Regions from separate parts of the Homo sapiens genome. Here region 1 is linked to region 2. The links come from fine-mapping of genetic effects on gene expression. Tissue or cell type: whole blood. Region 2 holds a variant in brackets; the other region holds the start of a gene. All regions are shown on one strand. Distances are from middle to middle.

The links. PIP is the estimated chance that this variant, and not a neighbour inherited with it, causes the effect.
Region 1: MERTK starts here. The variant in region 2 is fine-mapped to the expression of MERTK in whole blood (INTERVAL, PIP above 0.99).

The regions. Positions count from the first base shown.
Region 1 is chr2:111,897,400-111,900,022 of GRCh38, reverse strand. MERTK (MER proto-oncogene, tyrosine kinase) reads right to left here and starts at 1,416. Exons shown (of 19, transcript NM_006343.3): 1 at 1,227-1,416. The coding sequence starts at 1,287. RefSeq lists an enhancer at 1,948-2,277.
Region 2 is chr2:112,044,733-112,047,488 of GRCh38, reverse strand. No RefSeq gene overlaps it. Among named protein-coding and RNA genes, the nearest start is that of TMEM87B, 9.2 kb to the left of the region's middle. The variant T/G (reference allele first, on the strand shown) is at 1,192.

The DNA.
Region 1 (2,623 bases), 150 kb after region 2:
ATGTGTTTATTTAGCATTTTTCCCCTTTCTTTTTCTTTTGGGTAAAGCCTGGTAAGTTTATTCCAGCCTCCTCAAGAAGTGCATCAGCGATCAAACTTGAAATCTGTTCATCACTCACTCCCCAAATAAGCTGTTCAAGCAGAATGAAACCGGCCTTCCTTGCCTCCACGTATCAGTCCAGCATCTTGTATTAAAATGCCTGGAACAAGCCGGGCGCGGTGGCTCACGACTGTAATCCCAGAACTTTGGGAGGCCAAGGAGAGCAGATCACGAGGTCAAGAGATCGAGACCATCCTGGCCAACATGGTGAAACCCCGTCTCTACTAAAAATACAAAAATTAGCCGGACGTGGTAGCGCGCGTCTATAGTCTCAGCTACTCGGGAGGCTGAGGCAGGAGAATCGCTTGAACCCGGGAGGCGGAGCCTGCAGTGAGCCGAGATCGCGCCGCGGCACTCCAGCCTGGGCGACAGGGCGAGACTCGGTCTCAAATTAAAAAAAAAAAAGCCTGTAACAACACTTCGCTGAATCCAGATAAACGTAAACGCTGCCGAGCACTGTAAGTTCTGTTCTGCCATAACAGGAGTGAAAAGAACGCTCCCCTTTTCCCACACTCTCTGGGTGCCCCTAAAAAGGGATACTAATAATGCCCGTAAGGGCCCATTGGGAGCAGCCAGGACTGCCGTCCCCCCCTGGCCCGTCGCTCGGCCTCAGTCTATCGCGGCTCCCGGACTGCGGCTCCGACTCCCGCAGCCCGTTCGTTCGCCCCGCGCCGGTCCCTCGGGAGACCGGATCTGTGGCCCCCGGGACTCCGGCCAGAGCGGGGCCCCACCATGCAACTCTAGTGGAAAGTTCTCGTCGCATCCCAGACCAGACCTGCTACCTACGTTCCACTCGTCGGAACTTCAGGACTTGCAGCGCGCCCGGCCGAGCTCGATTTCCTCCTCTGCGGTGAAGAGGGGAGCCTGCAACGCCGACCCCGACCCGGCTTCACCACGATGCGCACCCGCAAGCCAGGCTGGGTGCCCTCGGGACGCTTGAGGCGCCGCGGTCAGTGGACGGTAGGTTCGCCTACGCCCCCTCCTCTGGCACCGCAGTGGGTGGAGGGTGTTTGCAAACTTGTCCAGCAGCCAGGCGCGCCCCTGTGGACGCGCTCCCTCCCCAGAGGCCCCTGCTTCCTCCTGGGAGCCCCCACCCCCTCGCCTGGCCCCCAGCCGGGCGCACTCACCTCTACGCCAGAGCGCGGGGAGGAAGAGGCCCAGCAGCAGCGGCAGCGGGGCCGGCCCCATCCCGGGGCTGCGGATCTGTAATTTCTCTCCGGACGGATGGACAGATGGACGTCCCGAACCTGTCCTGTCGCCGGCCAAGCGCGCCAGCGAAGCTCCCTGTCCGGGCGGCCCGGGCAGTGAGTGCCGAGTGGCGGAGCCAAGCGGCCGGCGGGAGGTGCCGAGGGCTGGAAGGGGCGGGCCGGGGGCCGAGCCGAGGCCGGCCGGGGCTGGAGGAGAGGAGCGGGCAGGGGGGCGAGTCCCGGCGGGCCCAGCAGGTTGGGGTGGGAGGGGGCGGGAGGACGAGGGGGAGGAGGGGCGTAAAGGGGAAAGGGAGGGGGTTGGAGAGAAGGGGCGGGCCGAAGGCCGCCGCTGGGCAGACGGCGGGGAAGGGGGCGGAGAGGAAGGGGAGGGGGCTGAGAGACCCGGAGGGAGCCGGAAAGAGAAGTGAAGGGGAGGGGTGGACTGGAGGTCCACAGCGGAAGGCTCTGGCCGCTGCGCGGGTCCGGGGCCCCACACGTGTGGGTGGGAGATGGGGAAGGACAGAAGGTGGGAGAGGAGTAGAGGATGCCCGAGGCAGCCCCCAGACCCAAGAGGAGGGTCCAGAGGCGCCCCCGCATTCCGGGCTTGGCTGACACAGAAAACCCTGGCCGCGCCGCTCCCAGAGGCCAAGGCCAGGGCGGCAGCGCTCCCTGCCGAGCGCTCCTCCACATCCATTCCGCTCGCCGCCGAGCGCCGCCTGGGTACCCGGCCCGAGGTGCGCGACACGGCCCTGGCGGCGAGGAGCTCACCTCCCCAGGGGGAGGGGTTCCTGGGAAAGGACGCTTTGCCGTGGCTCCGTGACGAGCCAGAGAGAGGTGACACTCAAGGAGGGAGATGAACGTGAATGACAAAGTGCAGAGCAGGAGTGGGGAGAGGGGGAACCACAGCACGTCACTCTCATGGGCCTCCACAAGGTGTGCAGGGTCCAAGAGGCAGTAGCAGAGAGTGAGTCGTAAGAGAAATGTAACTACTTACGCTAATAATGGCAACAGTAACTTAATTTATATACGTAGTTTCTTAAAGGTAACACTTTTAGAATGAATGTATTTTAATGTGGTCCCTTTAACAACATAACATAAGCCAAATCATGTCCCTCTCCTCAAATCTCCCTAAACCTATCAGTGGTTCCTGCTGTCTCTGCGTACGTAAGCCAAGGTTCTGCAGTGGTCTACGAGGTTCTACGTGACCTGGTCCCCTTTCCTCTTTGGCCTCATCTCCTTACGCCTCTTCAATTTACGTTGGTCTCGTCAAGCGGTCCCTTGACCCCTACACTGGCTGGACACTTCCCGTAGATTTGGCTACGGGAAGGAGACAGGCA
Region 2 (2,756 bases):
GGTGGAGCACTGGCAGGGACCCCTACAGAAACTCACCCTGAAATATTCACAGATGAGCTTACATGATGTCTGGGATTTGCTTCAAAATGCAAGAGGGAGGCTGGGCGCAGTGGCTCATGCCTGTTATCCCAGCACTTTGGGAGGCCAAGGCAGGCAGATCACTTGAGGCCAGGAGTTCAAGACCAGCCTGGCCAACATGGGGAAACCCCGTCTCTACTAAAAATACAAAAATTAGCCAGGTGTAATGGCACGTGCTTATAATCCCAGCTACTCAGGAGGCTTAGGCAGGAGAATTGCTTGAACCTGGGAGGTGGAGGTTGCAGTGAGCCAAGATTGTGCCATTGCACTCCAACCTGGGCGACAGAGTGAGACTCTGTCTCAAAAAAAAAAAAAAAAAAAAAAGCAAGAGGGAGAGAAGTGAGTGGGGGCACAGATAAAACAAGATTGGCCCTGATTTGATCATGTTTTAAAGCCTAGAGATGAAGACATAGGCAGTGACAAAACTATTCTGCCCACTTATATAAGCTTGAAGTTTTCCCTAATAAAACATTTGTTAACAAGTACATTCAAGACTTCTGCTAGATGTAATAATGGGTACCAAATTTACCCTCCTGCCTAGAACAACAACACAAAACCAGACCAAATAGATGAAATAACAGTTCTTAAGACACCGGATATCAGGCAATGAAAGACAGTTACCCCTGAGTGAAGGAAAAAAAAGAAAGTTGAGTCCTATGACTGCCTCAGCTTACTGGCTTGAGAGAATGTTCAGACCACAGCATGGGGAGGAATAACTCTAGCAGAGCCGGGCAGATTCCCTGAGTTGAGAAGACAAAGCTGGGAGTTCAGTGTGAGCAAAGCAGCAGTGGTTTGCAGGACAATATATATGGAGAGGTGAGAGTGGTACAGAGAGAGTTCTTGAGATCTGCAAAAGGTCCCCTTTAAATCTTCAGCAGAGAAATTATCAGCCACTGTATGTGAAGAAACTACATGAAGTAGAGGAAAGAGTCAGCAAAAAAAAAAAAAAAAAAAAAAAGAAGAAGAAGAAATAGTATCACAACAGGCTGGGAAAATAGCCTGTTCTCACCAGCTAACCTAGAAAACTTCCTAATTCACAGGGCATTGGTAGAATACTCAAAAAGGTCTTGCCTCAATAGTACAGAGTAATTAGTTTTAGACTAAACAGGGCTT[T/G]AGTCTCTTTTTATTTTTTCACCTCCTCCCAGATGAATTGAGCCTCAACAAACAAATCTTTAAAGCAAAACCCAAATGAACCAAACAGTTTCCACGTAACTTAATTATGCCCTAGAACAAAGCCCAAGAATATTTATAGGAGTACAAAAATCTGTAACACTCAACTAGTAAAATTGTAATGTCTGGCATCAGTTGGAGATTACTAGGCATGCAAAGAATCAGGATACTGTGAGACATAAAGAGGAGAAAAATAATCAGTTGAAACTGGCCAGAACTGACACATATGTTAGAATGAACAAAAAAGTCATTAAAAATTATAACTGTATCCTATATGTTCAAAAATTAAGTAGAAATATTAAAAGAAAAAACATGAAATCCAAATTTCTAAAGATGAAAAATGCAATGCCTGAAATAAATACACTGAATGGGCTTAATATAGCAAATTGGCTACTGCAGAAGATAAGATTAGTGAAACTGAAGACATAAGGATAGAAAATAACCAAAATCTAGGAGAAAAAACTTAAAAAATTAACAGACTATTAGTGAGTATTCAAATGGCCTAATAAGATTAGTAAAACTGAAGACATAAGGATAGAAAATAACCAAAATCTTGGAGAAAAAACTTAAAAAATTAACAGACTATTAGTGAGTATTCAAATGGCCTAATATATGTGTAATTGGCTCCAAAAAACAGTGGAAAAAATAGAAAAATATTTGAAGGAAGAATGGTTGAAATGTTTCTAAACTTAATGAAACAATAAACCCATAGATCCAAGAAGTTCAATTAGAGCTAAACAAAAGAAACATGAAGAAAACTGCTTCAAGGCACATCATAAGCAAATTGCACAAATCAGTGAAAAGAGAAACTCCTAAAAGCAGTTAGAGGGGAAAAAAAGACATGTTTGATACAAGGGAAAGAATAAAGAGAAGGATGACATCAATTTTTTAGAAACAATGTAAGCAAAGAAGACAGTAGGGGGCCAGGCACAATGGCTTATGCCTGTAATCCCAGCACTTTGGAAGGCCAAGGCAGAGGGATCACTTGAGGCCAGGAGTTTGAGACCAGCCTGGTCAACACAGTAAAACTCTGTCTCTACCAAAACTACAAAAATTAGCCAGGTGTGGTGACACATGCCTCTAATCCCAGCTACTTGGGAGGCTGAGGTACAAGAATCACTTGAACTCGGGAGGCAGAGGTTGCAGTGAGCCACGATAGTGCCAGTGCACTCTAGCCTGAGTGATAGAGTTAGACTCTGTTTCAAAAAAAAAAAAAAAACAGCGTGGGGACATCTTTAAAGCATTGACATGGGCAACCCCCTTTGGGTCCCCTCCCATTTTATGGGAGCTCTTTTTTCACTCTATTAAATCTTGCAACTGCACACTCTTCTGGTCCGTGTTTGTTACGGCTCAAGCTGAGCTTTCACTCGGCATCCACCACTGCTATTTGGCGCCATCGCAGACCTGCCACTGACTTCCATCCCTCTGGATCCAGCAGGCTGTCTGCTGCGCTCCTGATCCAGCGAGGTGCCCGTTGCCCCTCCCAATTGGGCTAAAGGCTCACCATT